Regions from separate parts of the Homo sapiens genome. Here region 1 is linked to region 2. Evidence: fine-mapped expression QTL. A gene starts in region 2. The other region holds a variant in brackets. All regions are shown on one strand. Distances are from middle to middle. Region 1 has its middle 78 kb from the start of HOXA1. Region 2 holds the start of HOXA-AS2 (HOXA cluster antisense RNA 2).

The links. PIP is the estimated chance that this variant, and not a neighbour inherited with it, causes the effect. A credible set is the group of variants that fine-mapping cannot tell apart.
Region 1: its variant is the best candidate, but not a certain one, in a credible set for the expression of HOXA-AS2 in whole blood (TOPMed, PIP 0.76).

The regions. Positions count from the first base shown.
Region 1 is chr7:27,015,093-27,020,468 of GRCh38, reverse strand. No RefSeq gene overlaps it. Among named protein-coding and RNA genes, the nearest start is that of HOXA1, 78 kb to the left of the region's middle. The variant A/C (reference allele first, on the strand shown) is at 2,164.
Region 2 is chr7:27,119,954-27,125,329 of GRCh38, reverse strand. HOXA-AS2 (HOXA cluster antisense RNA 2) reads right to left here and starts at 3,411. Exons shown (of 4, transcript NR_122069.1): 1 at 3,304-3,411; 2 at 2,664-2,863; 3 at 1,692-1,870. It overlaps HOXA3 (homeobox A3), which reads left to right. Exons shown (of 6, transcript NM_153631.3): 4 at 2,688-2,771. RefSeq lists enhancers at 462-1,259, 2,059-2,856, 2,435-3,634.

The sequences.
Region 1 (5,376 bases), 100 kb after region 2:
CACTTCATACGTTATTTTAAAATATACATTTAAGTTATTATAGACTATAGTCACCCTGTTGTCCTATCAAATAGTAGGTCTTATTCATTTGTTCCATTTTTTTGGCACTCATTAACCATCCTCATCTCCCCCGATTCCCCCACTATCTTTCCCAGCCTCTGGCAACTATTTTTCTACTCTCTGTGTCCATGAGTTCAATTGTTTTGATGTTTAGATCCCACAAGTAAGTGAGAACATACGATGTTTGTCTTTCTGTGCCTGGCTTGTTTTCCTTAACATAATGATCTCCAGTTCCATCCATGTTGCAAATGACTGGTTATCATCCTTCTTTATGGCTGAATAGTACTTCATTGTGTATAAGTATCACATTTTCTTTTTTCTTTCTTTTTTTTTGAGACAGAGTTTCACATTTGTTGCCCAGGCTGCAGTGCAATGGTGTGATCTCAGCTCACCACAACCTCTCCCTCCTGGGTTCAAGCGATTCTCCTGTCTCAGCCTCCCGAGTAGCTGGGATTACAAGCATGAGCCACCATGCCCGGCTACTAATTTTTGTATTTTTAGTAGAGATGGGGTTTCACCATGTTGACCAGGCTGGTCTCGAATTCCTGACCTCGTGATCCACCCGCCTCAGCCTCCCAAAGTGCTGGGATTACAGGTGTGAGCCACTGTTCCCGGCCAAGTACCACATTTTCTTTATCCATTCATCTGTTGATGGACACTTAGGTTGCTTCCAAATCCTAGCTATTGTAAACAGTGCTGCAGCAAACATAGGAGTGGAAATATCTCTTTGATATAATGATTTCCTTTCTTTGGGGGATATACCCAGCAGTGGAATTGCTGGATCCTATGGTAGCTCAATGATCAGTTTTTTGAGGAACCTCCAAATTCTCCCTAGTGATTGTACTAATTTACATTCCTACCAACAGAATACAAGGGTTCCCTTTTATCCACATCCTCACAAACATTTGTTATTGCCTGTCTTTTGTATATAAGCCATTTTAACAGGGGTGAGATGGTATCTCATTGTAGTTTTGATTTGCATTTCTCTGATGATCAGTAATGTTGAGCACCATTTCATATGCTTCTTTGCCATTTGTATGTCTTCTTTTGAGATATGTCTGTTCAAATGTTTTGCCCATTTTTTGATTGGGTTGTTAGATTTTTTTTCCTATAGAGTTGTATGAGTTCCTTATATATTCTGGTTGTTAATCCCCTATCAGAGGAGTATTTTGCAAAGATTTTCTCCCATTCTGTGGGTTGTCTCTTCATTTTGTTGATTGTATTCTTTGCTGTGCAGAAGCTTTTTAACTTGATGTTATCTCATTTGTCCATGTTTGTTTTGGTTGCCTGTACTTGTGGGACTCAAGAAATTTTTGCCCAGACCAATGCCCTAGAGATTTTCTCCAATTTTGACTTGAAGCAGTTTCATAGTTTCAGGTCTTAGATTTAAGTTTTTTTTTTTTTTTTTTTTTTTTTTTTTTGAGACAGAGACTCACTCTGTCACCCAGGCTGGAGTGCAGTGGCACAATCTTGGCTCACCGCAACCTCTGCCTCCTGGGTTCAAGCAATTCTCCTGCCTCAGCCTCCCAAGTAGCTGGGACTACAGGTGCCCACCACCATGCCTAGCTAATTTTTTTGGATTTTTAGTAGAGACAGAGTTTCATCATGTTGGTCAGGCTGGTCTTGAACTCCTGACCTCCAGTGACCCACCTGCCTTGGCCTCCCAAAGTGCTGGGATTATAGGTGTGAGCCACCTTGCCCAGCCAGATTTAAGTCTTTTAATCCACTCTTTTTATTTGATTTTTTTATATGGTGAGAGATAGGGGTCTAGTTTCACTCTTCTGCATATGGATATCCAGTTTTCCCAGTGCCATCTATTGAAGAGACTGTCTTTTCCCCAGTGTATGCTCTTGGTACTTTTGTCAAACATGACTTCACTCTAGGCGTGTGGATCTGTTTCTGGGTTCTCTATTCTGTTCCATAGAGCTATTGTCTTTTTTTGTGCCAGTACCATGCTGTTTTGGTTACTATAGCTCTGTAGTATAATTCAAAGTCAGGTAATGTAATTCCTCCAGTTTTGTTCCTTTTGCTTAGGATAGCTTTGGTTATTCTGGGACTTTTGTGGTTCCATATAAATTTTAGAATTTTTTTGTATTCTGGGGA[A/C]GGATATCATTAGTATTTTGATAGGGATTGCATTGAATCTGTAGATTGCTTTGGGTGGTATGGACATTGTAACAATATTGGTTCTTCCAATCCATGAACATGGAATATTTTTCCATTTTTTGGTGTCCCCTTCAATTTCTTTCAGTATTTTGTAGTTTTCATTATAGAGATCTTTCACTTCTTTGGCAAGTAAATTTCCGGGTATTTAATTTTATGTGTATAAGTGGGATTACTTTTTAAATTTCTTTTTCATATTGTTCACCTATGGCATATAGAAATGCTACTGATTTTTGTGTGTTGATTTTGTATCCTGCAAATTTACTGAATTTGTTTCTCAGTTCTAATAGTTTTCTTGTGGAGTCTTTAGTAGGTTTTTCCAATTATAAGATTATATCATCTGCAAACAAGGATAATTTGACTTCTTCCTTTCTAATTTGGGTGCCCTTTATAGCTTTCTCTTGTCTGATTGCTCTAGTTAGGATTTCCAGTACTATGTTAAATAACAGTGGTGACAGTGGGCATCCTTGCCATATTCCAGATCTTAGAGGAAAGGCTTTCAGTTTTTCCCCATTCAGTATGATACCGTGGGTCTGTCATATGTAGCTTTTATTATGTTGAGATATGTTCCTTCTATCCCCAGGTTTTTGAGGGATTTTATCATAACAGGACGTTGAACTTTATCAAATGCTTTTTCAGGATCAATTGAAATAATCCTGTGGTTTTTATCCTTCATTCTGTTGATAAGATGTATCACATTGATTGATTTGCATGTGTTGAACCATTCTTGCATCCAGGGATAAATTCCACTTAGCCATGATGAATGATCTTTCTAACGTATTGTTGAATTCGGTTTGCTAGTATTTTCTTGAGGATTTTTGCATCAATATTCATCAGTGGTTTTTCTTTTTTTGATGTGTCTTTGTCTGGTTTTGGTATCAGGGTAATATTGGCCTTGTAGAATGAATTTGGAAGTATTACTTTTTCTTCTATTTTTTGGAATAATTCGAGAAGGATTGGTATTAGTTCTTCTTTAAATGTTTGGTAGAATTCAGCAGTAAAGCCATCAGGTCCTGGGCTTTTCTTTACTGGAAGACTTTTTATTATGGCTTCGATCTCATTACTTGTTCTTGGTCTGTTTAGGTTTTGAATTTCTTTCTGATTCAGTCTTGGTTGGTTTTATGTATATAGACATTTGTCCATTTCTTCTAGATTTTCCAATTTATTGTCATATAGTTGCTTGTAGTAACCACTGATGATACTTTGAATTTCTGCAGTATCAGTTGTAAATGTCTCCTTTTTCATTTCTGATTTTATTTATTTGGATTTTCTGTCTTTTAGTTTGGCTAGAGGTTTGTCAATTTTGTTTAACTTTTTAAAAAACCAACTTTTTGTTTTATTGATCTTTTGTATTTTTTTCTTCATCTCAATTTCATTTATTTCTGTTCTGGTCCTTAGTATTTCTTTTCTTCTACTAATTTTGGGTTTGGCTTGCTCTTGCTTTTCTATTCCTTTAAGATGCATCACTAGATTGTTTATTTGAGGTTTTTACCCTTTTTTGATGTGGGCACTTACAGCTATAAACTTCCCTCTCAGTACTGCTTTTGCTGTATCCCAGAGGTTTTAGTATTTTGTTTTTCCATTATCATTTGTTTGAAGAAATTTTTCAATTTTTTAAAATGTCTTCATTGACCCACTGGTCATTCAGGAGCACTTTGTTTAATTTCCATGTATTTGTATAGTTTCCAAAATTCCTCTTGTTATTAATTTCTAGTTATATTCCACTGTGGTCAGAGAAGATGCTTGATATTATTTCAATTTTTGAATGTTTTCAGACTTGTTTTGTGACCTAACATATACTCTATCCTTGAGAATGATCCATGTGCTGAGGAAACGAATGCATATTCTACAGCTGTTGGATGAAGTGTTCTGTAAATATCTATTAGATCCACTTGGTCTCTAGTGCAGAGTAAGACTAATGGTGTCTGTTGATTTTTTGTCTGGAAGATCTATCAATGCTGAAAGTGGGGCGTTGAAGTCTCTAGCTATTATTGTGTTGGGGTGTATCTCTCTCTTTACCACTAGTAATATTTTCTTTATATATCTGGGTGCTTCACTGTTGGGTGCATATATATTTAAAATTGTTATATTATTTTGCTGAGTTGACTCCTTTCTCATTGTATAGTGGCTTTCTTTGTCTCTTCTTAGAGTTTTGGTCTTAAAATCTATTTTGTCTGATATAAGTGTAGCAACTCCTGTTCTTTTTTAGTTTCCATTGTCATGGAATATCTTTTTCCATCCCTTTATTTTCAGTCTATGTGTGTTTTTACAGGTGAAGTGTTTTTTGTTGCTGTTGTTTTGTTTTTTTGTAGGCAACAGATCGATGGGTCTTGTTTTTTCATCTAGCCAGTGTACGTATTTTCATAAGACAGTTTAGTCCATTTACATTCAATGTTATTATAATAAGTAAGGACTTACTGCTATCATTTTGCTATTTGTAGTCTGGTTGTTTTGTGGTCTTCTCTTCCTTCTTTCTTTCCTTCCTCTTTTAGTGAAGGTGATTTTCTCTGGTGATATGATTTGGACTCTTACTTTTTATATTTTGTGTATCCATTGTATGTTTTTTGGTTTGAGGTTAAAATGAGGTTTACAAATACTATCTTATAACCCATTTATTTTAGCTTGATAAAAATTTAACAGTGTTTGCATAAATAAGCAGACAAGCAAAAAGAAAACTAATAGGCTGGGTGTGGTGGCTCATGCCTATAATCCCAGCACTTTGGGAGGCTGAGGTGGGCGGATCACTTGAGGTCAGGAGTTTGAGACCAGCCTGGCCAACATGGCGAAACCCCGGCTCTACTAAAAATACAAAAATTAGCCAGGCCTGGTGGTGTGCAGCTGTAATCCCAGCTACTCGGGAGGCTGAGGCAGGAGAATCTCTTGAACCTGGGAGGCGGAGGTTGCAGTGAGCTGAGATCGTGCCACTGCATTCCAGCCTGGGTGACAGAGTGAGACTCCATTTCAAAAAAAAAAAAAAAAGAAAAGAAAAACTCTGTGGCTTAACTTCATCTCCCCACTTTTTAACTTTTTGTTGTTTCTATTTATTTATTTTTTTGAGACAGGGTCTTGCTTTGTTGCCCAGGCTAGAGTGCAATGGCGTGATCTTGACTCACTGCAACCTCTGCCTCCAAGGCTCAAGCAATCCTCCCACCTCAT
Region 2 (5,376 bases):
CTGTCCAAAGTGAAGGAGACCTGGAGGCCATTTTGGTTCAATCTTCTTAATTTACAGATGAGAAAACTGAGGCAGCCGAATGATCCTCCCTCCACCGTTCCTTAAGTTAATGAGTACGAGGGTGGAATGCAACCTTTAGTCTCACTCTAGAGAGCAATAAGAGCACAGACATCTTTCCTCTTAGGAAGATATTCTGCCAGGAATGGAGGTATGCATCTAAGCTTACACTTGACCTGGACGGTCACAGGTGTGTACAGCCAGAGAAGAAGGATGGGTTCTTGCCTCATGGGCCATCAAAGCTGCTTGGGGAGATTTTGTAACCAAGCCACCCTAGTCATAGAGCTCAGACAGGTGGACTGGCCACTGGGCTCAGGAGGGGACAGATGTCAGGGCATCTCGGAGAGCAGTGGACTCCCCACTATCCACAACGGTCATAATCCCAGGATGACTAATTCTGTCATGCTTGCCCTGCTATTTCCATGGTGGTGGCTTGCCTCAGACCAGGGCAAGGATGAATGTGCCCCGGAGGCCGGCAGAGCCAAAAAAAGGACCCTGGTTGCAGCTGATAAAGGTGTAGCGCCTGTGCAAGGGAGATATTGAAATTGTAATCTTTGAGGTCACGTGACTCATTAAATAATTAATGCAGATCGTCAGGAATGGATCGGAGTCGTCAGGGCCTCACTAGGAATGAATCTCTCAGAAGTGAGATTCCAACTTACCATTTGATTTTTAAAAACACACACCCTCAGATTTATCTCCAAAGGCTTTTAACTCCTTCAGGAAGGCAGGAGAGAGCCCTCGGCAGGGAGGACGGAGCTGGCAGGCCCTCACCAGATCTTGGGGCCTTTTCCGCAGGGTTTCTGCGAGTCCAGGGAGCGCGCCGCGTCCGGGGAAACGTGAGTTCGGGCTTGGGTTTTCTGCGGTCACATCCTGGCTTTGGTGATGAAGTGGGACGGATGCGCAGACAGTTGGTAATGTTCTGATTCACGCTGGGGAAGGCTGCAGAGATACCACAGGACGGGCGCGCGGCTTTGTTCAATTTTCCCGGCGTTCATAAATCACCCGCGCCGGGCGAGCGAGGGAGCAAGCGAGCGCCAAAAACGCGGAGAGAGAGGCCACGGCGGCGGCGGCAGCCATTGTAAAGTGAGAGACCTGGGCAGCATCTCTCTGTGACTCATTAGTCTGAACGATTTATGGGGTACAGCAGCCATGAATATTAGACTTGGAGATAAGGAAACAGCAAAAATAATAACCATAATAATTACATACTCCTAAGTGTCACGCAGGGGAGTGGTGGGTGGCGGCATAGCGGATCTTTCTGGAATGAAATTGAGAGGCAAAGTGCAGGATGGCTGAGTCCACCTTGCTCATGGTCATGCCAGGAGCCCCAAGACCAGGGGGCACTCCCTTTGGGGACACAGAAAGCAAGTTTGAACAAGAGAAAGGGGGCGCAGCGCGCAGCGTGGATCCTGGGTCCTTTTCCTTTGGTTTGTGGGGGCTACGGGTCGAACTGTGGCAGAGCGCAGCTACCGGTGTGCGGCCACTTGTTCCACGTGCTAGGGGGCTCCGAAGCCAGGGGTCAGGGGACTCCTCAGCTATTTGATATCCCCTCTTAGCGCTATCTACAGAATTGCGTGAAGGCAGACAGACAGCGGAGGGCTGGTTTGGGGCAGGCTGGGGTAAGAGGTTACCTGGGTCTGAGTGAAGGGGTAGTCGGGGCAGGGATAGGTCTGTAGACGCAAAGGGCCCGCAGAGTCCCAGCGGAGCGCAGAACTTCTCCAAGCCAGGGTCCGGCGAGCGGACGATTCTTTCCTCTTTCCCCATCATCTCCCACTCCCAGAAAGCTGACTGCCGGCTCGGTGACCATTTGCTGGTTAGAGGGCAAGAGAGGGTTGCAAATACTGTGAGGGACGAGATTTGAGCAGAATCAAGGCATCAGATCGGCTTGTGGCCGTTGCGCAAGGCCAGGCAGGAGCAGGGCCCCTGAGCAGGTATTGTACCAGCCGGCGTCCCTCTCAGTTTCCAGCAGCCTTAGCTGGCCTGCTCTGAGGGACTAGGTGCTGCGGTAGCCCCGCCAGCCCACTAGGACCTAAAAGGAACGCACCCAGAGTTGAATAAACCAGAACACAAATCCTCCCAAGACTGCCTCTGGCCAGTGGAATGAACCCGGGTCTGATTTCGCGCCTACAGAAATGAACACATATTAGTGAGGTTTCAGGAGAGTCCGTGATTGAATGCTCCCAGACAAGGCTTCCTTTTGTTAGGAAAGGAAAATAAAGCAAGCATTCACATTCTCCAAGTTGTGGTGCCTGAGGAGAGAGCTCTCTGAAAGCAGCCCACACCACCAGCAAAGCCACTTCCACCTTCTCAGCTTCCTCTGTTTGCTTCATGTCCTTTCCTTCCCCACTCCCCCGCCAAAAAAAAGAAAGAAAAAGGAGAAAGTATGGGTGTGGAGATGGAGTATGTATTTATTTTACAAAAATAAATCACCATCTTCGGACCATTTGTAGACTGGAACATTTCGAGCAATGAGTGCGCCACACGGACGAGTGCCCTGGTGACTCCCTGATGTTCGCGTCACCCCCAGGGCCACCTTGGCGCCCGCATGAGCCTCGCTTCCCACTCCCGGCCTCCAACTCCCTTCCCTCGCAGCCGCCATTCACCTTCTGCTGTTTATTTGTCTGCAGAGCGCCTGGACACCGGAAAAGGCGATTCCCTGAGCGCCTGGAGTTGGAGACAATTCCTGGTTCAGAATTTAAACATCTTTCTAGGTAAGCGCTGCTCCAAAACTCTTCGCCGCGTGGGACTTTGCACCAGGGCGGTTGGGAGGAGTTGGCCCTCCACGGTTCCTGGCAACCGCGGCCTGTTGAAAGAGGTTCTGGTCAATATTTAACTTCGGAGGAGTTTGGAGTTGGATTCCTTTAAGCTTCTTGCCCTGCGAGTGCGGGGCCTCAGGCAGACAAAGAGCCTACCCCAAAACCAGCGATGGGCAGGAGAAGCGGTTGCAGAAGGCAAAGATGGGTTGTGGAGAGTCAGAGGGAGTGTGTTTGTTTCTTCCTGCAAGCCCCAAACAAACCACTACACTGAACTTCAGGGCAAAAGCAAGTAAAGGCCACGGGCACGGGCGCGGCGGCCGCTGCGTGGGCTGCTCTCTTTGTCGACTAAGGCGACTGCGGAGGCTGTGAGTTAAGAAATTGTCGCCAGTCCCAGCTCGCTGTTGAGGAAAACTTGTATCACACTCTTGCAGTTTCTTAGACCATTTTGCCTTTCCTTCGGCATGAGAAAAATTGCTGTATTTCTAACCTTTAGGCCTTCGCAGACAGCGGGTCTTCTTCCTTCTTTCATCAGGGCTCATCATCGGTTCTTCCTACGGGAAAAGCGTGGTTTTCTATGTCTTGGCGTTTCCTTTTCCTATTTGAAACAAGGGAAAACTCTTTTAAATTATTTTCAAGTTCTGACTTAATTTGTCCTCTTAGTTTGGGATGCAGGGAGGTAATTACTGTGGTTTATTACCTTGTAAAAGATCCATAAATTACATGCCTGTTTGGGGGAGGGGCTGCTGGAATAGCTTTCAGAAGCATGGTATGAAGGAATGAGTTTGCTTTGTTCTTTCAGGAATTACTTCTTTTTAAAAAGTTTTGAGATTTTGTATTCTATTTCCTAGGCCTCCAGTCTTCCCTTAAATTTGCTCCCAAATAGATATCAGGTTGTTAATTAATTGCAACATGATATTCAGTCGTGCTATAAGGCTGATATGGTGTTCTGGATACAATTATTTTTTCCAATAGAAGGTAAACAGAGCAATAGTCAAGCTGTGTTACTTTCTCAGCTACTGTATGTCTGTTTATATCAAATATAGATGGAACATTTCAGGAATTTGTAACTCTGTGTATATGATTTCCATCTCAGCAAACAACAGAACAATTGCATGTATAAATAGTTGCAGGAATTTGGGGCCTTGTGTATAACACAATATACACATCCACACGTGTCCAGAGAACTTGGCCCATTTCTCTACTGCACTTGCACCCACAGGAAATATCTCATGTTAAATAAGAATCTATCATACACACACACACACACACACACACACACACACACACACACACGCACACAGTGGGCTAAGAGAGCCTTACCTGATGCTGAGTAGAAAATCCACTAGATTTAAGTAATGGGACAAAAATGTTAAGTGTACTTTTGACAGAGAAATCAGATTGCAGTGTTTGAGTACAGATATATCTAATCTGCCAACAGCCTTGCAAATATTGGCTAACGGTGTGTACCCTTGGTTGCCTGCTTTTTCCAAGCCAGCTTTCCCCCTATTTTGGCTCTGGTGACCAGGACCACAGTATCAGTCCCAGCGCAGGCCAAGTTGGAGGCCGGTGAAGTGAGTGAAGAGGGACTGGCAGCTGGGTTTTTAAAAGGCCCGTAGCTTTGCTCCAGGAAACTGGATTGCAGAGTGGCAAAGGAGGACTGTCAGCTGCTGGTTCCCCAGATAGGCTGCCCAGGCCAAGATCTCTCATAGAGAAGCTGTTTTTTAACCTCAAAAGTTAAATGTCTTTTGACTTTTCAGATTTTTCCCTTCTCATCCCACCAAATCACCCATCCCACCCCAAGTCATTAATGTTAATTGTTAAACAGCAGTTGGAGCATTAACTGGATGTTAGCAGCCGTTTGGAGGCCCCAGGCTGGAGCTGAGATGCCTCTGAGCTTTGCTGGCGTTAAGGCATTTCTCTGAAGCAGTACCAATGACTTATTTCATTGATTTATGGCTTTTTTTTTTTTTTTTTTTTGACAGAGTCGCGCTCTGTCCCAGGCTGGAGTGCAGTGGTACGATCTCAGCTCACTGCAACCTCTGCCTTCTGGTTTCAAGTGATTTTCCCACCTCAGCCTCCCGACTAGCTGGGATTACAGGCATGCACCACCATGCCTGGCTAATTTTTGTATTTTTAGTACAGACGGGGTTGCACCATGTTGTTCAGGCTGGTCTCGAACTGCTGACCTCATGATCCACCCACCTCGGCCTCCCAAAGTGCTGGGATTACAGGCATGAGCCACCGCACCCGGACAATTTATGGCTTTAAGAGTTTTCATTTGCTCGACTGTTCCAAGAGCTTTGAAGGGGGCCCCTTCTCATCTTTGAGTTGATGCCTCTTCAGAAACTTGGGGGTAGGGAGGAATTTGCCAGCAATACCTCCAGGTCCCTTTCTAGGGTATCTGGAGAGCTCAGTGTGAATGATTGGTGAGGGGTATGAGGCAGGCAGCAGTAAGAATGAGAGGAGTGAGTTCTTGGGGGTCAGGAGAACGCTTTTTGGAAACCAGCTTCTACTCCTGTCCTCTATCCCCCAAACCTGAGAGAGGCAGGTTTTCACTTGG